Homo sapiens: one gene and its partner. The protein of the gene in region 1 interacts with the protein of each later gene in a pairwise test. Each region holds a gene or a part of one and is shown on either strand. Other genes may lie near its edges.

Evidence for each region.
Region 2: the proteins of MPI (region 1) and HIP1 interact in binary tests that used the Homo sapiens proteins (3 or more experiments, as listed by UniProt).

Annotation. Positions count from the first base shown.
Region 1 is NC_000015.10:74,881,974-74,893,041, reverse strand, and holds the start of MPI (mannose-6-phosphate isomerase), read right to left. Parts: upstream 3,001-11,068; 5' UTR 2,969-3,000; coding exon 2,953-2,968; exon of another isoform or gene 2,845-2,952; coding exon of another isoform or gene 2,841-2,844; intron 2,605-2,840; exon of another isoform or gene 2,516-2,604; coding exon 2,388-2,515; intron 1,664-2,387; coding exon 1,463-1,663; intron 382-1,462; coding exon 240-381; intron 1-239. UniProt on the Homo sapiens protein: Isomerase that catalyzes the interconversion of fructose-6-P and mannose-6-P and has a critical role in the supply of D-mannose derivatives required for many eukaryotic glycosylation reactions.
Region 2 is NC_000007.14:75,551,791-75,562,938, forward strand, and holds part of HIP1 (huntingtin-interacting protein 1), read right to left. Parts: coding exon 11,145-11,148; intron 10,381-11,144; coding exon 10,283-10,380; intron 9,612-10,282; coding exon 9,539-9,611; intron 8,126-9,538; coding exon 7,942-8,125; intron 6,466-7,941; coding exon 6,377-6,465; intron 5,981-6,376; coding exon 5,864-5,980; intron 5,022-5,863; coding exon 4,920-5,021; intron 4,380-4,919; coding exon 4,236-4,379; intron 3,762-4,235; coding exon 3,626-3,761; intron 2,737-3,625; coding exon 2,650-2,736; intron 2,431-2,649; coding exon 2,323-2,430; intron 1,800-2,322; coding exon 1,663-1,799; intron 1-1,662. UniProt on the Homo sapiens protein: Plays a role in clathrin-mediated endocytosis and trafficking. Involved in regulating AMPA receptor trafficking in the central nervous system in an NMDA-dependent manner. Regulates presynaptic nerve terminal activity.

The DNA of each region.
Region 1 (11,068 bases):
CCAAAGAGCCGGCAATGCTAAGTAAACTTTGCAGTGGAAACCAATCACTCACCACCAGCCCTTGACTACCACACCTGAGCCTGGTCTCACTGGCCTGGCTCACTGGCTCCAAAAACTGCTTCATGAGGCCCTTCAGTTCCTGTGACATGTGACCCGTTCTCAGCCACTGTTCCTATCATCTTGGTTCCCCAGGTATCCCTGGCCCAGTACGCATGCCTTCAGCATTCTGCCCAACTTACTCTTTAGAAAGGTTACAATCTCCTCAACTGGCCGGAAGCCACACAAGCCCTGGAAGGGGGTGAGGGCAATGGCCATCTCTGGCTTGTGGTTGGCATCGGGGTAGTGCTGCGGAGCCTGGAGGTGCAGCTTCTCTGCCAGCTCCTGTGGGGTGGCCAGGGGAAGAGGAGGATGGTGAGGGTACAGCCATTACCTAGCAGGTACACCAGTGCCACCTAGCCCCTGCTGTCCACCCTCCCCAGTTGCAGGATGGCAGTGACTACCTACCTCTGGCAAGGAGCCCAGTCAAAGCATGTTGCAGAAACTTGGGGCTCAGCCAACCCAGGGCAGGGGCAAATCAGGGGCAACCCCGGGGCAAATCAGGGAAAAGCTGGGGCAGACTTTAAGAGGCTTGGCCTGTGAATCAGGAAACCCAAATACCAGACCAAGCTCTGACACTAACAAGCTGTGTGGCTTTGGTAAATCCCTCCCTTCTCTGGGTCTTACTTTGTGTATCTAGAAATAAGGAGTTTTGGCTGGGCATGGTGGCTCACGCCTGTAATCCCAGCACTTTGGGAGGCTGAGGCGAGCGGATTACGAGGGCAGGAGTTCAAGACCAGCCTGGCCAACATGGTGAAACCCCATCTCTACTAAAAATACAAAAATTAGCTGGGTGTGGTGGCGCGTGCCTGTAGTCCCAGCTATTTGCGAGGCTGAAGCAGAAGAATTGCTTGAATTGGGAGGAGGAGGTTGCAGTGAGCCGAGATCGCGCCACTGCACTCCAGCCTGGGCGACAGAGCAAGACTCAAGTCTCAGAAAAAAAAAAAAAGGAGTTTTGATCCACAGTTGCTTAGGATGGGACTCCGGCTTGTGTAGGGAGACTCCATGGGGGTGGGGCTGAGGGTACCTGCCCTGCCTTGCAAGTTGAACTCTTCCTGAAAGCAGATGAGTAAATGGCAGATATGAATAGACATGGGTTGGATGAGGGAAGACCAGGAACAAGCCCCTTGGAATGAGCTTAGAGAAACTCCCCTGGCACAGGCCGGTGAGCTGTTTGCTTAGACTTAGTTGCTGCATGTGTCACTACCATCTGGCTTTGCAGAGCTAAATTGGGAGTTGTCAGCCTGGATTTGGCCTTGGGCAGGAGCCTGGCATGGGTGGGGTAAAAGTGGCAGTAAAAGTCACGGGAGGGCCTTAGCATAAGCCCTTCTGTACCCTGACCTCTGCACCGCACTCTGTCCTTTACCTTGTTAGGGTGTGCCTGGATGGACAGGGGTGTTTCAACTGAGAGCACTTTGAAGAGGAAGGGCAGGTTGCCATTAAAGGTGTCCTTGACCTTTGAGCCCAAGCTGTCCTGGTTCTCAGCAATCCACTGGCTTAGGGTCTTCTGTGAGATGCGGTTGTCAAGGATCTTGGCATCCCCTCGGGGGTGAGTCCCCATCCACAACTGGAAAGACAGGAAACTTGGGAGGGGAAGGGGGAAGAAACCTGCCACCCTGAGTTGGCCTGTCCCAATCCGTTATGCTGTGCTCCCCACAGGGCAACTGAGTCCTGGGAAAGGCCTCCCAGGTCTGGATACAAATGTTCATGCCATCATGGACATACAGGGAGGCAGTAGACCCAGGCCCTTGTCCAGACTCGGCCTCTAGCCATCTATGAAGACTTGGACTAGTTATTTCCCTTCTTTAGATGTATCTTCTTTGTCTGTCCAAAGAGGAGAATGACATCTGCACTGTCAAGGTAGCAGAAAAACTATGACTCTTAAATGATTCTTTCAGGGGTTAACATACATCTTCCAGTTTCAGAAGCAGAGGCGAAAGCCTTCCTATGCTTTGGCTTTTTCTCCACTAAATAGGCAGGAGAAATATTTTAGGTTAATAAAAATGCAAAAAAATAGTCAAAGTAAAAAAACTTAATTGTCAAAGAGGGCTGAATTAAAATTCACTAAGTGCTAAGAGTGGTTGGGGGAAGGAGAGTGCTGGAAATCCCAGCCTATTATGACAAAACCTCTCTTCTTTTTGATAACACTATCTAGTCCATTAGCCTGAAGAGCCAAGTGGGTCTCCTCCCTCCTTGCTGCCTCACCCTTCCCAGCTGATTCTTATGACTTGCCTCAGGCCCTTTCTCCTGACCTGCGGGTAAAGTGGGCTGAAATACAGCCCGGGGCTCACCTCTGCATAAGGCTTGTCCTCTGCGATCTGGGCCAGTGGATCACTGCTGGCCAACAGCCGCGCCACTTCGCTGTTGGAACCCATCTTCCCCCAGGCATACTGCTGCACCGCACAGGAAAGTGGGAATACTAGGGGCACAGACAGGGTCAGCTGCCACTCCACTCCTCAGGCCCCACCCTAGTGTCCCGGGAAACCAGGCAAGAGCTGGGGGTGCTCACTGGGGACAGAGTCAAATAAGGGTTTTGTAGGCTGTTGGATGAGACCCCCCTCCGCTGCAGGCCTCGATGTTCCCAACTGTCAGATGGGCAGCAGTAAGGACCTTGTGCTGATCTGAGGCAGGGTGGCGGGGAGGGAGCAGAAGGTACCTATCCCACGGCACGACGTCTAGAAGGGCCCCCTCCCCTCGGAGGTCAATCCCCATCGCAGGTGGCCACACCTCTGCCCGGCACCCACCCATCTTTCCGCGGAATGCCAGGAGCGGACTCAACCTGGCCGATAATGCCGGGAGTCGTCCCCAGGACGCGCTCCACGAACACACTCGCCGACACCCCAGCCAATGGCTCACCTCGCGGAGCGGCCATGCTCGCCCCCTGCACCAGGATTAAGCACGTATGCCTTTCCCGGCAGCCCCCGCGGCCCTCTGCGCCCAGAGCTTCACGGGAAATGTAGTTCCCTGAGCGTTCCGCCAGGCCCCGGGGCACCCGTGCCCAGAGGCTTACGGCCGCGATCTTCGGTCTCACTATTCATTCATTCTTTCCATCGCCGGGCACAGATGTACTGAAAACCTGCTAAGTACCACGGACTGTTCTAAGGGCTGGAGGATACATCAGAGAGCAAGATAGCCTTCCCTCTGCCTTTGTAGAGCGCTTACATTCTGGTGAAGGCAAGACAGACAAGTATTGTAAGCAAATCATGTAGTATGTTGAAAGGTCAAGGCCACAAAAAGTAAGGGGGCAGGTGGCAGTGGGAGGCAGTTTGCAGAATATAAAAGGCTGTCTGGGCAAGCCTCTTGAGGAGGTGAGGTTTGAGTCCAGACTTGGCGGTGAGGAAGGCAGGAGTGTTCTGCGGGGAGGAAACAGCCACAGCGGAAGCCAGAGCAAGGCGGGAATGTGGGACTGTGCCGGGCGTGTTGGGGAGGGAACTGCTAGCAAGGAGGCCACTGTGGCTGGAGCAGAGTGAGTAAGACAGGGGCAGTGAGGAGGTCAGAGAAGAGAGGAGGGGGGCAGAGCTTTGCAGGCTATTGCTATTGTGAAGACTTTGGGTTTTACTTCGAGTCTCAGCAATTACAGATTTGAGCAAAGAATTGCTGTGATGTGAGTAGGGACATACTAGTGATGATGATGGTAAATGTCACATGCAAGGCCCTTCACTGCTCTGAGCTTTGTAGAATGGGGTGAATAATGCCAGCCTGACATGCTTGTTGGAGGGTCAGATGGGATGACGTGAGACACCTATAAGGCAGTCAGCTCCCTGTGCTCCTCTGATCCTTCCCGTCCCAGGTGCTGTAGAAAGTCAGAACCCCAACTTCTACTCCAGGCTGAGCTGCTTACAAGTTGCACACACAGAAGTCAGGGGAATTACGAAGAGCTGTGCATAGGGAAGGATGGCCTTGGGCCTTGGCTCTGCAGTAATCTTGGCTATATCCTGTGGTGAAAGGCTTTGACATCCAGACCTTCTCAGTCAACAGCCTCCTAGGAGGAGGACAGTCAGTGGCTCAGGCCTGTAATCCTAGCACCTTAGGAGGCAGAGGCAGAAGGATTGCTTGAGGCTAGGAGCACAACAGTCAAAGCTCCGGGGAACCTGGAATGAGGAGTTACAGTCCTGACTCTACCCTCATCACCCCTGCAATACCCTCATTCCCACAGCCTCTACCATATGTGCCCAGGGGAAAGAGCGGGTGCCGTTTTCCCTGTAATCCTCTGCCCAGGTGTGGGTATCTATCTCACCTCCCCTGGGGTCCTCTGGCTCAAATAAATCAGCTTGCATTTTAAAGGAAGCTTTACCATGCACTAAGGAATAATAAAATGGATAATACAAGACTCATGACAGCCCCCCGCCTGGCCAGCCGCCCCGTCCGGGAGGGAGGTGGGGGGGTCAGCCCCCAGCCCGGCCAGCCGCCCCGTCCGGGAGGTGAGGGGCGCCTCTGCCCGGCCGCCCCTACTGGGAAGTGAGGAGCCCCTCTGCCCAGCCAGCTGCCCCGTCCGGGAGGGAGGTAGGGGGGTCAGCCCCCCGCCCGGCCAGCCACCCCGTCCGGGAGGTGAGGGGCGCCTCTGCCCGGCCGCCCCTACTGGGAAGTGAGGAGCCCCTCTGCCCGGCCACCACCCCGTCTGGGAGGTGTACCCAACAGCTCATTGAGAACGGGCCATGATGACAATGGCAGTTCTGTGGAATAGAAAGGGGGGAAAGGTGGGGGAAAGATTGAGAAATCGGATGGTTGCCGTGTCTGTGTAGAAAGAGGTAGACATGGGAGACTTTTCATTTTGTTCTGTACTAAGAAAAATTCTTCTGCCTTGGGATCCTGTTGATCGGTGACCTTACCCCCAACCCTGTGCTCTCTGAAACATGTGCTGTGTCCACTCAGGGTTAATGGATTAAGGGCGGTGCAAGATGTGCTTTGTTAAACAGACGCTTGAAGGCAGCATGCTCGTTAAGAGTCATCACCACTCCCTAATCTCAAGTACCCAGGGACACAAACACTGCGGAAGGCCGCAGGGTCCTCTGCCTAGGAAGACCAGAGACCTTTGTTCACTTGTTTATCTGCTGACCTTCCCTCCACTGTTGTCCTGTGACCCTGCCAAATCCCCCTCTGCGAGAAACACCCAAGAATGATCAATAAAAAAATAAAAAATAAATAAAAAAAAAAAAGACTCATGAAACAACGTACTCAATACCTCGTGCTTTGGAATACCACTCCTTTCCCTCATCTCCACTACCCAAGTGATATGATTTGGCTCTGTGTCCCCACCCAAATCTCATCTTGAATTGTAATCCCCACATGTTGAGGGAGGGACCTGGTGGGAGGTGATTGGATCATGGGGGTGGTTTCCCCCATGCTGTTCTCATGATAGTGAGTGAGTTCTCCCAAGAGCTGATGGTTTTAAAGTGTGGCACTTTCTCGCTCTCTCTCCTACTGCCATCTAAGATGTGCCTCGCTTCCCCTTTGCCTTCTGTCATGATTATAAGCTCCTGAGGCCTCCCCAGCCATGTAGAACTGTGAGTCAATTAAACCTCCTTTCTTTTTTTTTATTTTTTCTTTTTGAGTATTGAGTCTTGCTCCGTTGCCCAGGCTGGAGTGCAGTGGCATGATCTCAGCTCACTGCAAGCTCTGTTTCCCAGGTTCAAGTGATTCTCCTGCCTCAGCCACCCAAGTAGCTGGGTGCACACCACCATGCCCGGCTAATTTTTGTATTTTTAGTAGAGGCGAGGTTTCACCATTTTGCCCAGGCTGGTCTCGAACTCCTGACCTCAGGTGATCCACCTGCCTTGACTTCCCAAAGTGCTGAGATTACAGGCATGAGCCACCGCGTCAGGCCAAACCTCCTTTTTTTTTTTTTTTTGAGATGGAGTCTCACTCTGTCACCCAGAGTAGAGTGCAGTGGCACGATCTTGGCTCACTGCAACCTCCGCCTCCCGGGTTCAAGCGATTCTCCTGTCTCAGCCTCCCAAATAGCTGGGACTACAGGCACGTGCCACCATGCCCGGCTAATTTTTGTATTTTTAGTAGAGACGGGGTTTCACCATGTTGGCCAGGCTGGTCTCAAAATCCTGACTGCAGGTGATCCACCCACCTCAGCCTCCCAAAGTGCTGGGTTACAGGCATGAGCCACCATGCCTGGCCCAAACCTCCTTTCTTTATAAATTACCCAATTCAGGTAGTATCTTTATAGCAGCATGAAAACGGACTAATACACCAAGCAATAGGAACCTTCTCAGATAAGAACGAGGGACTAATGAGGCTCAAGGAGTTCTTGGAGCACTCCCCACTACCACTACCACAGAAAACAGAGTCAGGGTTATTTGCTCATAGTATCCCTGCAAAGTGAAGGAAGAACTTAGATTGTTGGGAGATACAGACCACCCCCCAACCCCATGCCACCCTCCCCCAATACAGAAAAACTTATCTGTAAGAGAAACTAGGGTGTTTGGAGAACCTAGAACCTTCTACTTCTTCCCTCTTGCTGGTCTATCTTGAGAAAAGAGATTTTATCTGAGGAATGTGCATCCTTTTATATTATCAGGCCCAGAGAGACATTGATATGGAGGACAGACCCTTCTTAGGTGCCCCTCTGGCCCGCAAGTATGGAGATAAAGGGAAAATTTTGAGTCCCTTCAAGGGAGATTTCAGGAACTAGCTAGCCCTGCACCCAGCAATTAGGGAAGTAAATGAATAACCCACCAAGGAAGAAGGTAATAGTAACTTAAGCAGCCACCCAAGTAAGCCAGAGTCACAAGATGTTTAGTTCTCTATAAAAACTAAAGATAGGGGCTGGGCGTGGTGGCTCATGCCTGTAATCCCAGCACTTTGGGAGGCCAAGGCGGGCAGATCATGAGATAGAGTTCAGGAGATCGAGACCATCCTGGTTAACACGATGAAACCCCGTCTCTACTAAAAATACAAAAAATTAGCCGGGCGTGGTGGCAGGCGCCTGTAGTCCCAGCTACTCGGGAGGCTGAGGCAGGAGAATGGCAGTGAGTGGAGATCGTGCCACTGCACCCCAGCCTGGGCGACAGAGCAAGGCTCCGTCTCAAAATAAAAAAAAAAACAAAAAAACAAACAACAACTAAAGACAGAGTGCAGTGGCTCAGGCCTGTAATCCTAGCAGTTTAGGAGGCAGAGGTAGAAGGATGGCTTGAGGCCAGGAGTTCAAGACCAACCTGGCCAACATAGCAAGATCTCATTACTATTTAAAAAAAAATGAAAATAATATCTTGGCCAGGTGCAGTGGCTCACACGTGTAATTCCAACACGTTGGGAGGCCAAGGCGGAGGATAACTTGTGTCCAGGAATTCAAGACCAGCCTGGGCAACATAGCAAGACCCTGTCTCTAAACATACTTTAAAAATTAGCTGAGGGTGGTAGCACATGCCGGTAGTCCCAGCTACTCTGGAGGCTGAGGTGGGAGGATTGCTTGAGCCTGGAAAGTCGAGGCTGCAGTGAACTGTGATTGTACCACTGCACTCCAGCCTGGGTGACAGAGTGAGACTGCATCTCTAAAAACAAATAACACCTTGACATGTCTTCTGGTTTTGTTTTTTTTTTCAGAGATGGGTTCTCTCTGTGTCATCCAGGCCTACTGCAGCCTCGAACTCCTGGGCTCAAGCTATCCTTTCATCTCAACCTCCTGAGTAGCTAGGACTATAAGCACATGCCACCACACCTGACTAATTTTTAAATTTTTTGTAAAGACGGGAGGTTCTTGCTATGTTGCCTAGGCTGGTCTTGAACTCCTGGGCTCAAGCTGTTCTCCTGCCTCAGTCTCCCAAAGTGCTGGGATTCCAGACTCCTACCAGATGGAAAATGCCCACTGCTGTCACATTGACCTCAGATAAGGGGGAACTGAAGACTGAACTCTGACCACCATCCTTTTTTCCAAATTATTCCTGAGGGATGTGGAGAGAGTCACACCCACGGGCCAAACCTTAGCATTCCTTTCTGCTGACACCAAGTTTTTAGACAAAGCCTTGCTTCCTTAGCCAATTACAAATCAAAGAATCTCTGAATTCACATGAGCCCCTGCTTCAAGATATCCCACTTTTTTGGGGCAAACCAATGTGTAACCTCTATGTATCGATTTACAATTTTGCTTTCCTGAAATGTGCCCCTTCTTTTAAAAACCCTTGCTTGTAAGCCATTGTGGAGTTCAGGTCTTAAGCATTAGCTGCCTGATTCTCCTTGCTTGGCACCTGCAATAAATTATCTCACTTTCTTTTGCTGCAAGTCCTGGTGTCGCTGTTTGGCATTTTTTTTTTGTTTGTTTGTTTGTTTTTACTTTGAGACAGAGTCTTGCTCTGTTGCCCAGGCTGGAGTGCAGTGGCACAGTTACAGCTCACTGCAGCCTCTACTTCCAAGACTCAAGTGATCCTCCCACCTCAGCCTCTTGAGTAGCTGAGATTATAGGCACATGCCATCACGCCTGCTTATTTTTTAAGAGATTGGGTCTCACTATGTGGCCAGGCTGGTCTTGAACTCCTGGCCTCAAGTGATCCTCCTGTCTCAGCCACCCAAAGTGCTGGGAGTATAGGCATGAACCACTGTGCCTGGCCAGTGTTTGGCTTTTTCTGCACACTAGGAAAGCAGATCCAAGGTCAATTCAGTAACAACATTAAAATGAGACAGCAACCACATTCTACTTCCTTCCTTTTGAGCTATTTATTTATCTCTTGAAACTGCTTGCTATTGCCACAACTAGGTATAAATTAACCTAATAATACCACAATGGACACTGTAACCCATACCCTACAGCTTAACAATGTATGGCCAATCACTAATCAGTGCTAATTCAGTAAACCAATGAGAATTCCTGACAAAAGACTGTATCAGCCCACTCCTTGTCCCTGCATTTTACCTTTAAAAACATACTTGTGGCTGGGCACTGTGGCTCATGCCTGTAATCCCAGCACTTTGGGAGGCCAAGGCAGGAGGATTACGAGGTCAGGAGTGTGAGACTAGCCTGGCCAACATGGTGAAACCCTGTCTCTACTAAAAATACAAAAAAATTAGCTGGGCGTGGTGGTGCATGCCTGGAGTCCCAGCTACTCAGGAAGCTGAGGCAGGAGAATCGCTTGAACCCGGGAGGCAGAGGTTTCAGTGAGCTGAGATTGCACCACTGCACTCCAGCCTGGGCGACAGAGCAAGACTCCATCTCGGAAAAACAAACAAACAAACAGAAAAAAAAAACTTGAAACAAAGGCCTAACAGAGCTCATATCCAAGGTTACTTGGGTATGAGTCTTATGGACAGCTGTCTCACTGTGAATCAAGTAACTTTAATTTTGTGACTCAGCCTCTTCTTTTTAGGTTAACAATCTCTAGTAGAACTGATCACACTCTATTATCTAGTGACAATACACTTTCCTCTCTCTCTTCCCTTCTAGACTATATGTCTAATTCAGCTTCACATTTCTGCCAGTGCCCAGCTGAGGGTTCAAGCTATAATAGCAGCATTTTTTTTTGAGACAGTCTCCCAGAATGGAGTGCAGTGGCAAGGTCACATCTCACTGCAACCTCCATCTCCTGAGCTCAAGTGATCTTCCCACCTTAGCCTCCTCAGTAGCTGGCACTGCAGGCACACACCACCACACTTGGCTAATTTTTGTATTTTTTATAGAGACGGGGTTTTGCCATGTAGCCCAGCTGGTCTCAAATTCCTGAGCCCAAGGAGTCCACTGGCCTCAGCCTCCCAAAGTGCTGGGATTACAGGTGTAAGCCACCGCACCTGGCTGCAGCTAACTTTTATTGTTATGAGAGTGGCAGGAGGCAGACAAATCCTAGGCAGACAGGGACAGGTCCCCGGTGAAAACCAACCTTCAAACCAAAGACAGTTTAAAGCCTGAAAGCCAAGCTACAAGTCCTGGGTAAATCCACGGACTGGAGTGAGAACCTCTCTTCCACTTTGGTGCACTTTCCTCTGATTGATCCCCACCCCTCACCTATTTTACATATACCTACCCTTCCCTAATTGGTTTCTTACACTGTTGTGCCCACCTTTGAGTGATGCCTTTGTTTTAGCCTTTTTTGCATACTCACAAACCAATCAGCATGTACTCTGCCATTCTGAGCCTATAAAAGCCGCAGACACAGCCACACCGAGTAAGAGACCACCCAACTTCAGGTGGGGGAAGCCCTCACATCCTCCTCTCCACTGAGATCTCTTTTGTCACTCAGTAAAGCTCTTTGTCCCCCTCACCCTTCAATCGTCAACATAACCTCATTCTTCTTGGACACGGGACAAGAACTTAGGACTACCGAATGTAGGTAAAAAGAGGCTGTAACACTGGTCCTCTGCCTTCCACTGGCTGAGGTCAGGTGCCTCATGTGATGGGAAGGAGTGGCAGGGCCAAGCCAGTACTGGAGCCATAGGCTGGAATGGGGCAATGGGACTGACAGAGCTGTTAACACATCAGCCGCTGTCCATCAGGCTGCAGACAGTGGGACCAAAAGAGCTATTAGCATGCTGTAATACCCACTCTGGGGCTTTGGGGTCATAGGCATCCCTGTTCATATACCACCACTTTCCCCTCAGTGCAACATGCCTGGTCCAGCCTCAAGCCCTGCATGGAACCCACTCCTGTGTCTGTGCTTGGTGTGGTGGTCAGACTCCACACTTGCTCACACCTCCTCCCTCCAGGGGCTGAGTGCAGGGATCTGCATTGGAGTGGAAGCCAGGCGTGGCCCAGTGACCTGAGTAGACGGGGCATCTCCTGCAGCAAGCCCAGGCCTGAGCAAGGCCCGGGCAGGGGTGTCGCCAGCTGAAGACCTCCGGCTGACAAAGGGGCTGAGAAAAATCCCGCCTCAGTTATACACTGGGTAAGGCCAGAGTTCAGTCCTCAGTTCCCCCTTATCTGGGGTCTATGTGACAGCAGTGGGTGTTTTCCATCTGCTAGGGGTCTGGGTTTCTGGAAGACAACTCAAGGGCATATGTCAGCCAGGTGCGGTAACTCACGCCTGTAATCTCAGCACTT
Region 2 (11,148 bases), on another chromosome or scaffold:
AATTCCTGGCCTCAATTGATCCACCCACCTTGGCTGGATGTGGTCTTTTTATTATCTTCTTCTGGAACTCCAATTAGACAGTCTATCCTCATGGCTTTTATTTTTTATTTATTTTTTGAGTGGAGTTTCGCTCCTGTTGCCCAGGTTGGAGTGCAAAGGCACGATCTTAGCTCACTGCAACCTCAGCCTCCCAGGTTCAAGTGATTCTCCTGCCTCAGCCTCCTAAGTAGCTGGGATTACAGGCGCCTACCATCACGCCTGGCTAATTTTTTGTACTTTTAGTAGAGATGGGGTTTTGCCATGTTGGCCAGGCTGGTCTAGAACTCCTGACCTCAGGTGATCCACCTGCCTCGGCCTCCCAAAATGTTGGGATTACAGGCGTGAGCCACCGTGCCTGGCCCTATCCTTGTATCTTAACCAATATATTCCAATTCATAACACTGGGGAAAAAATGAAAAAAAACTGTACTGCATAGAAATGGTTTTCTTATTTTTCTTTTCCATAGAGTCCATGTCTTCTCTGTCCCTATATATACTTAACCCAATTTCTGGTATACAGGACATATTTATTTATAGCAGAGGCAGGGTCTCACTCTGTTGCCTAGGCTGGAGTGCAGTGGCACAATCATAGCTCACTGTGGCCTCCAAATCCTGGGCTCAAGCGATCCTCCTGCCTCAGCCTCCCGAGTAGCTGGGACTACAGGTGCGTGACATCACACCTGTCTAATTAAAAAAAAAATTTTATTTTGTAGAGACAGGGTCTCACTATGTTGCCTAGGCTGATATTGAACTCCTGGCCTCAAGTGATCCTCCTGCCTCGGCCTCCCAAAGTGCAGGGATTACAGGTGTGAGCCACCATGCTCGGCACTACATCTTTAGTAAATGAATGAACACAGTGTTATTTCCATTTTGGGTATTACCTGCCCACCTAGATAAAAATCCTCAGAGACAGGGGAGCTGCCTATACTTCTTTGATATTGCCTAGTGTAATGATGACAACATAGTAGATTCTCAGCTAACAGCCAGTGAATTAAATATAGCTGGAAAGTCCTTCAGGAGGTTTTTCCTTTTTAAATTTTTTTTTTTTTAATTTTTAAAGAGACAGGGTCTCATTTTGTTGCCTAGGCCTGTCTCAAACTTCTGGGATCAAGTGATCCTTTTTTTTTTCGAGATAGATCTCACTCTTATGCCCAGGCTGGAGTGCAATGGCATGATCTCGGTGCACTGCAACCTCCACCTCCTGGGTTCAAGCAATTCTCTTGACTCCACCTCCCAGTACCTGGGATTATAGGCATGCACCACTATGCTGGGTTGATTTTTGTATTTTTAGTAGAGACAGGGTTTCACCCTGTTGGCCAGGCTGGTCTCTAGCTCTTGACCTCAAGTGATCTGCCCACCTCAGCCTCCCAAAGTGCTGGGATTACAGGCGTGAGCCATCCCGTCTAGCCTCAAGTGATCCTCCTGACTCGGCCTCCCAAAGTGCTGGGATTACACGCATAAATCACTGCACCCGGCCAGATTTTCCAATTTTAACAATCTCTTTCTAGAATCAAGTTCTAAGTGCAGAAAGAACTAGCTCAGAACATCACCGATTCCCTGGCCATTCACCAGCACGCACACCCAGAAGAATAACAATGCTCCTCAATGATACTACTCCAAGTACCTCGCCGATGGCCTTGATCTTGCTCAGGCAGTTCCTCATGGCTGTGCTGTCGGCATTCTCAAGGCTTCCCTCTTCCTCCAGGGAGGCCAGGTAGGCGAGGGTTTCCCTGCCATACTGCTTACAGGCCTCGGTCAGTGCTGGAGATACAAGGCAATAGACACTTTTTTTTTGAGATGGAGTCTCGCTCTTGTTGCCCAGGCTGGAGTGCAGTGGCGCCATCTCGGCTCACTGCAAACTCCGCCTCCTGAGTTCAAGCGATTCTCCTGCCTCGGCCTCCCAAGTAGCTGGGATTACGGGTGCGCCACCATGCCCGGCTAATTTTTGTATTTTTAGTAGAGACGGGGTTTCGCCATGTTGGCCAGGCTGGTCTCGAACTCCTGACCTCAGGTGATCTGCCCACCTCGTCCTCCCAAAGTGTTACGGCGATTACAGGCGTGAACCATTGCATCTGGCCCATCGTTTTTGTATCTTTAGTAGAGATGGGGTTTTGCCATGTTGGCCAGGCTGTTCTTGAACTCCCGACCTCAAGTGATCTGCCCGCCTCAGCCTCCCAAAGTGCTGGAGTTACAGGCATGAGCCACTGCGCCCGGCCCAACAGAGACTTTTAAAGGCCCCCTGCTCCCCTGGTCCATGAACAGCCCCTCATGCCCCGGTACTCACAGTCGGCAGGCTCAGGTGGGGCTCTGAGGCAGGTGGTGGCACCATGAGCAATGGCGTCGCTGGTCAAGTGGGCCAGCAGGGTTATGGAATGGAGAAGTCCACTGATGTCTGCCAGGATTGGAAAGAGAAGTTTCTCAGGTCTGGTTGATGGTGACACTTTCATACCCTCTCCTCCCGTTTTATGAGTTGCCTACATGCCTTTCTTGTATGAGTTGCCTACATGCCTTTCTTGATGCAGAGGGACCTGTCACTATCCCCGCATTCAGGTGCTTCTGAACCCTGTCTGGCCATCACTAGCCGACAGAGACTGTCCTTGGCCATTCTTACCTTCTGGGCAGGCCAGATACTGGCTCCAGCTTTTCTCCAGTTGCTCGATGCAGCTGGAAATGGATGTGACCGTGGAGAGGAGGTGATCTGTGAGAGGGAACACAGGGCAAGGTCAGAGCAAGTTCTCATAGCTGGCTTCATCCTCGTTAATTAAGCACTGAATGGAGGAGCTTACCTAGTGGGTAAGCTTCCTGCCTAGACGTGAAGTTCATGAGTAATCACCTCTTGATTCAGACCATAGTTTTTTCCTTAGAGAAACAGAATTGTCTGCTCCTGGTGGGTGTTTTATCAGTGTGACCCACTGTCTAAAGCAGTAGCTATCACACCTGGGGGCTTTAGAAAATACTACTGCTGGGCCTGGCGTGGTGTCTCATGCCTGTAATTCCAGCACTTTGAGAGGCCAAGGTGGGAGTTCAGAAGTTTGGGACCATCCTGGGCAATAGAGTGAGACCTCGTCTCTACCAAAAATTAAAAAATTAGCCAAGGCCAGGCATGGTGGCTCATGCCTGTAATCCCAGCACTTTGGGAGGCCAAGGTGGGTGGATAGCCTGAGCCCAGGTCTTCAAGACCAGTCTGAGCAACAAACCGAAACCAAAAATTAGCTGGGCGTGGTGTTGCGTGCCTGTAGTCCCAGCTACTTGGGAGAATGAGTGGGGAGGATTGTGTGAGCCCAGGAAGCGGAGGTTGCAGTGAGCCACGGCACTGCACTCTAGCCTGAGCAACAGAGTAAGACCCTATCTCAAAAAGCGGGGGGGCGGGGGGGGGGAAGAAAATACTAAAATACTAGTGTATAGGCACTAATGCACAGAGTTTCCACATGTAACTGATCTAGGATGGGGCCTGGGCGCCCCTAAGGTAATGCTGACATGCTGCTGGGCTGAGAGCCCCTGAGCTAAGTCTCACATGAGATTCAACATCAACAGAGTCTCAGGCTGTAAGGACCTGGCCCCTGCCAGCTGGGCAATTGCAAGTGTACCTGCAGACCCAGCGCAGCTGATGAGAGGAGGTTCTTCAAGCTGGTTCAGGGCGTCTTGTATCACCTGCTCCGCAGCCTTCCTGGACCCCACCAGAAGCATTTTTCGTTGGTCTTTGGCAAGCTGGCACATAGATTCCTAAAAATGGTCCAGGGAGGTGAGAGTCTGCCCTAGACTCCATAATGAACCTGAGCAGGATGACCTGGCTGGGGCTCTTAGCATCTTAGCTCAAGTCATGGCCAATGAGGTCCAAGCCAGTAAGCCTGAGACAGAGAAAGGCGCTTTAACTGTGTGCACAGGATGTGCGGCTGCCCACGATGTGCGGCTGCCCACAGAGGCTGTGGGGATGGATCACTGCGCCCGCTTCTCATGGCTGGGAGGAGATGCCAAACTTCTCTTCTCATACAAAAAAGACAGCAGTTTGCTTTCCCTCATGGACTCTGCAGGCAATGCAGGGCCTGCTGGCATTACACCTACAGAATGTCTGCACAATCAGGCCAAGGCCCCAAACCCCTTCTCAGCAGCCCCGGGGTCCTCCCAGCCTCCGTGCATGCGCAGAGGCCCTCGGTGGGAATTCACAGGTGCTCGCTCGTGTCCATGTCCGTGACTTGCCTCTGTGCTGGCCAGTTTGAGCTGAGTGTCCTGCAGTTCTTTCCGAAGAGCAGATAATTCCTCCTCCCTATGAGCTGCGCCACTCACCAGGCTGTCCCGCTCCTTCTCTAGCTCGGCGAACTCGGCTGCCCAGTTTGCTTCTGACTGCAAAGGTGACCACAAGGAAAGAGGGAGACGCTGGTTGAGTTAAACAGTCCCTACTTCCCAGAGGTCCAACCCACCACCGGGTTGCAAGGACTGGGAAGGTGATGGCTCTTTAACCTGCCACTCTGATTCCCTCCCGGGGACACACTGATTGCAGTGGGGGCTGACTTGGCCAGGCCAAGGATGGTGGATGACAGCAACGCCAAAGCCAGGGGTGGGGCAAGAAAGGAGGCCGGGCATGAAGGCTCATGTCTGTAATCCCAGCACTTTAGGAGGCTGAGGTGGGAGGATCACTTGAGCCCTGGAGTTCGAGACCAGCCTGGGCAACATAGTGAAACCCCGTCTCTACCAAAGAAAATACAAAAACTAGCCAGGTGTAGGGGTGTGTGCCTGTAGTCCCAGTTACTCGGGGGGCTAAGTGGGGAGGATCACCTGAGCCCAGGGAGGTGGAGGCTGCAGTGAGCTGCGATCGCACCACTGCATTCCAACCTGAGTGACAGAAGAAGACTCTATCTCCAAAAAAAAAAAGGAGGTATTTACCTGGGCAGAAGTTTCCAGGCTGCCTTGCAGAACCTGAAGCTCCCGTTGGCTTGTGGCAAGTTCCTGCTTCAAGCTCTCTAGAACTTCCAGCTGTTCTTGAGTCTGAAAGAGAAGAAAAACAGAGGGACTCTGATCTGGGTGACAGTGACAAAGAATATAAAAATGTAAAAACGTCCCAAGCGATCAACAAGAGATCTGTAAACTCTACTGTATGTAAGTTACACCCCCCCAAAAAAGTGCAGGGTGTGGGAGGAGGAGGCAAGACCCCAGAGTGTACTGAAAATGTGGAATGTCAAGGAAGGATTTTTTATTATTTATTTATTTATTTATTTATTTATTTATTTTTGAGACGGAGTCTCGCTGTTGTTGCCCAGGCTGGAGTGCAGTGGTGCAGTCTCAGCTCACTGCAACCTCCACCTCCAAGGTTCAAGAGATTCTTGTGCCTCAGCCTCCCAAGCAGCTGGGACTACGGGCACACGCCATCACACCTGGCTAACTTTTGTATTTTTAGTAGAGATGGGGTTTCACCATATTGGCCAGGCTGGTCTCGAACTCCTGACTTGGTGATCCACACCCCCCTCAGCCTCCCAAAGTCCTGGGATTACTGCCGTCTCAAAAAACAAACAAACAAAACAAACAAACAAAAAAAAACGCTCATCCCTCTCTCTCTGCCACCCATGTGTTTTCCTTTCCTCAAACTCTCCACCAGCCTCATCCTTGGAAAGCCTTTGTTGATTAACCCCAGGCAACTTGGGTCCTTCCATTACTTCGTGTATGCACTGGTGACGGTGTTTTGCTGTTCTGTGTGGCCACCATGGTGTGCTCCCTGCTGTGTGATGCCAACCGACCCACAGAACTGCCCATGGAGCAGAAGGCCACAAAGCCCCCGCCACCAACTCAACAGCCCCCTCCCTCATTTCCCGAGTGCTCCTCGTCCCACTCACCTTCCGCTGGCCCTGGTCACTGATGCGCTCCAACGAATCCTCCAGCTCTTTTTTCTCTCGTTCCAAATCTACCTGGGCTTGTCTGGCCATGGACACCTGTTTGGTCACCTCTGCATTCTGCAAAAGAAGAACAGTGTCTTGAACCAGGAGATCCCAGGCTTAGAGGACATCCTCCTTCTAGGACAATCATACTCAGGCTGTGCGTGCCCTAGAGTCAGACACAGGAATCACTTTCCTACCCACAGCCGGAACAGAGCCATCACCTTCAGATGCTTGATGCTCAAATATTTACAAAATAATAAAGAAGGTGGGTGACCTACATGGGATTGGCACCCAGGACACAGCCCAAGACACAGAGGCAAGGAAGCCTGAAAAGGTGTGGTTCCCGAGATGACGGCAATGCCTTAGAGATCAATGTAGGGGTTGCTGGCCCCGGGGAAGCCACAGGCCTGAGCCGCTCTCTCCCTAGAGGTGCAGGGCCTGCAGGATGGTGACAGGGGCTGAGGGTCTTACCTTCCGCAGCAGGTCAGCGTGGTTCTGAACCAGCTCGCTGTACTTCTCCTTTAGCTTGCTATATCGCTGTTCATTGGCTTGAGCTTTCCCTGTATTGTAAAGGACCAAGGTGAGGAGTCTAACCTAGCAGGGACCCTTGCCTTCCTTGCAATGAGCCAGGGTCCCTAGAAGGTCCTCCTTGTTTTGTTTTGAGACAGTCTTGCTCTGTCACCCAGGCTGGGGTGCAGTGGCACAATCACTGTTCACTGCAGCCTTGACCTCCTTGGGCTCAAGTCATCCTCCCACCCCAGTCTCCTGAGTAGCTGGGTTCATGGGCACACGCCACCACACCCGGCTAATTTTTGTAGAGACAGGGTCTCACTATGTTTTCCAGGCTGGTTTCAAACTCCTGGGCTCAGGTGATCCTCCCATCTCAGTGGGATTATAGGCATGAGCCACTGTGCCCGGCCAAAGATCTTCCTTTGATTTAGGAATGCATATATGCTTTTCTCCCTTGAAAGTCCTACTTACAGAAACTTCTCCAGGAAGTCATCTTTAAAAAGAATTCAACTAGTTAAAAATCAAGCCAGGGGCCAAGCGAGGTGGCTCATGCCTATAATCCCAGCACTTTGGGAGGCCAAGGTGGGTGGATCACCTGAGGTCAGGAGTTCAAGACCAGCCTGACCAACATGGTGAAACCCCATCTCTACTATAAATACAAAAATCAGCTGGACATGGTGGTGTGTGCCTGTAATCCCAGCTACTCGGGAGGCTGAGGCAGGACAATCCCTTAAACCTGGGAGGTAGAGGTTGCAGTGAGCCCAGATCACACCACTGCATTCCAGCCTGGGCGACAGAGTGAGACTCCACCTCAAAAAAATAAAACAAATAAATAATCAAGCCAGGGATTCATGCCTCTTCAGCACTTACATACATGGCATTTATTCTATGGGGGCTTTCAGCTTTTTAACAAATTTATTTGAAATTTTTTAGAGACAAGGCTCTCTGTTGCAGAGGCCGGAGTGCAGTGGTGCAATCAGCTCACTGCAGCCTTGAATTCCTGGGCTCAAGCGATCCTCCTGTCTCAGCCTCAAGAGTAGCTGGGACTACAGGCACGTGCCACCATGCCCGGCTAGTCTTTTTTATTTTTTCTAGAGATGGGGTCTTGCTATGTTGCCCGGGTTGGTCTTGAACTCCTGGCCTCAAGCAGTCCTTCCATCCTGGCCTCCCAGAGTGCTAGGATTACAGGCATGTGCCACTGTGCCCTCAGCTTTTATGTCAATTTCTTTGTTAGGACCTCAATCCTCTCTCCTTCTCCCTTAGTATCCACTGCCCAGGGCAAGCACTTCAGTGCTGTCTTCTGTATTTCCCATCTCTGTGCTCAGCGGTGCCTCGCACACAGCTTTGTGCCTGCAGGACTCAAACCCGCCCTCTGGACTGAGGCTAAGAGCTGGCATTCCTAGCTGTTTCTAGAAAGACAGTCTGGGTCTCCCCCACCCAGCCTCTGTGCCGCATCCTGAGTCCAGCTGGGCTCTGCTGCCCGCGCCTGCCCCCGGGGCCCGCCCCCGCCCCCACCCACCGCTCACTTTCTATCTCAGACAGGCTCCGCTGAGCCTTCTCGGTGTCCTCCCGCTGCCTCCTGAGCTCGTCCAGTTCTGCCCGCAGGAATTCACAGTCGTCGGCCGCCTGCTGCCGCAGGTGCTGCTGCTCGGCCAGATCTGCTTCCAGCTCGCTGACGTGGCCCTTCAGCTGCAGCACAACCCGCTGGCTCTGTGGGGGGACTCCGGTCATGAGGCCAACCGCCCACTGCCACGGGTCACGGGCATGGGCCGGAGAAGCGGGTCCTACCATGCTTCCAAGTAAATACCTGATTCCCCTAAGTCAACTCTCCACGTCCCAGGAGGGTTGGACCATCTGGTCATTAGGAGCCCCTCAATCAACAACAATAACAGGGGATGATGGCCGGGGAATTGTGGTCCTCTTTAGAGTGGCTGGGGGTAGCAGTGGCTGTCCCTGTGGGTGAAGTCACCTGACCAGCCACTGTGAGGGGCGGTTGTTAATATAGCACCAACATTGCTCACAGCTGTCTCTTCTCTTTTTTTTTTGGCGGTTGGGGGAGGGGAGGGACAGGGTATCACTATCACCTAGACTGGAGTGCAGTGAGGTGATTATGGCTCACTGCAGCCTCAACCTCCTAGGCTCAAGAGATCCTCTAGCTTCAGCCTCCCAAGTAGCTGGCATTACAGGTATGCACCACCATGCCCAGCTAATTTTTAAAAAGTTTTTTGTAGAGATGGGGTCTTGCTATGTTGCCCAAGCTAGTCTTGAACTGCTGGGCTCAAGTGATCCTTCTGCCTGAGCCTTCCAAAGTGCTGGGGTTACAGGCGTGAGCCACTGTGCCCGGCAAACCAATCTCTCCTTATCGCCATGTGAGAAGGTCTGGTCTTGTTCTCCACAGCTTCTCAGCCTCGTGGGGACCAAGGTCATCTCTGGGTATCAATCACATGGATACTGTGCCTGGCCTAAATGCTGTCCTCATGGCATGTAAAATGGAAATGCATTATGACAGAGAACACGGGAAGACCTGGTTCTTTTGGATTTAGCATTTCTACCAGTTTTTATTTGGTTTTAGAGACACAGGTCTCGCTATGTTGCCCAGGCTGGATTCAAAACTCCTGGGCTTGAGTGATCCTCCTACCTCAGCCTCCTGAGTAGCTGGGATCACAGGTGCACACCACCACGCCTGGCTTGTTTCTACTAATTAACCTACCCTAAGGATGTGGTCCAAAAACTGTCTAGGTGATGCAATTTTTTTTTTTTTTTTTGAGACAGAGTCTTGTTCTATCGCCCAGGCTGGAGTGCAGTGACACGATCTCAGTTCACTGCAACCTCTGCCTCCCAAGTTCAAGCAATTCTCATGCCTCAGCTTCCCGAGTAGCTGGGATTACAGGTGCCTGCCAACACACCCGGCTAATTATTGCATTTTTATTGAAGACGGGGGTTTCACCCTGTTGCCCAGGCTGGTCTCGAACTCCCGACCTCAGGTAATCCTCCTGCCTTGGCCTCCCAAAGTGCTAGGATTACAGGTGTGAGCCACTGTGCCTGGCTAGTGTGATGCAAATTTAACATTCAAATCTACCGTGTTTTGGTGAAGCGCAAAGGCAGAGCAGATCCAAGTTATACCTCAGTCTTCATGTTTTCTAGCTGTGCCTTCAATCCACTGATCTCTCTGTATAGTCGCTCAATTAAGTGGTCCCTGGGAAGAGAAGGGGAATGAGTTTGCTTTCATAGTGCTTCTATCCCTCTGTTTTTAATTGTGAGCTCAGGGGAGGAAATTAAAAGCTGGTATTAATTTGGGGACAATTCTTTGAAATGCCATAAATTATACTCTAAATGTTACCAGATACTAATCTAATACTCATAAATCCATGGTTATTGATTTTCTTCTGAGATTAAAGGGGCCAATATTTGAGGGTCAAGACATTCCTTTTTTGTGTGTGTTTTCGGTTTTGTTTTAGAGACAGTCTGGCTTTGTCGCCCAGGCTGAAGTGTAGTGGCACGATCATAGCTCACTGCAGCCTTGATATCCCAGGCTCAAATGATCTTCCCACTTCAGCCTCCTGAGTTACTGGGACTACAGGTGTGTACCACCTGCCCAGCTAATTTTTTTACTTTTATTTAATAAAGATGGGATCTTGCTATGTTGCCCAAGCTTGGTCTTAAACTCCTGGCCTTAAAAAATCCTCCTACCTCATCCTCCCCACATGTTGGGATTACAGGCATAAGCCATTGCCCCCAACCCTTCAAGATGTTCTGTATCTAAGAAGCCCCAGTATCATTAAGAATTCCTCTTTGGTTAGTGTTTTGAGGCAGACCATGGCTTAACTTAGCTCCTGAACCATCTGCTTGAACCCAGCTTGGACTCACTTCTCATCCTTGTTCACACCATTTTGACTGTTGAAATTGAAGGGATCACTGCTGAATGAACTGCCAAAGATGTCATCAAACTTGTTGTCAAATAAATTCTGTGGTTGACCAAAAAGGAGTGAGAATAAGTCAGAGAGCCAGAGAATTCTGTGTGTGGGTCAGTTGAGTGATATGGGAGAATGCCCCCTTTCTCGAATTAAACGGTTCAGACCTGTTTAATTTTTTTAATTTTTTTGAGACAGGTTCTCGCTCTACTGCCCAGGCTAGAGTACAGTGGTGCAATCATAGCTCACTGCAGCCTCCAACTCCTGGCTCAAGTGATCCTCCTGTTTCAGCCTCCTGAGTAGCTGGAAGTATAGGTGTGTGCCACCATACCTGGATAATTTTTTTATTTTAATTTTATGTATTTATATTTTTAGGGCCTGGTTCTTGTTCTCTTGCCTAGGCTGGAGTGCAGTGGCATGATAACAGCTCACTGTAGCCTTGGCCTCCCAGGCTCAAGTGATCCTCCCATCTCAGCTTCCCACATAGCTGGGACCACAGGTATGTGCCACCACATCTGGCTAATTTTGTAAAGATGGGGCCTTACTATGTTGCCCAGGCTGGTCTTGAACTGGCCTCAAGCAGTCTTCCCACCTTGGCCTTGCAAAGTGTTGGGATTACAGCTGTGAGCCACTGCACCCATTTATGACCCTTCTGGGAGCCACAGAGCAGGATGCTCAGCCTAGGTTGGTGCTAGGTGAATGAAGAGAAGCCTGAACCTGGTTAGAGTCAATGGGCTTTGGCCAGGGTCTCCCCCAGCCTCTCCCCTGTACTTGCAGGTGAGAGGAAAGGCCAAGTTTCTCTCCCAAGTGGTCCTCACCTGC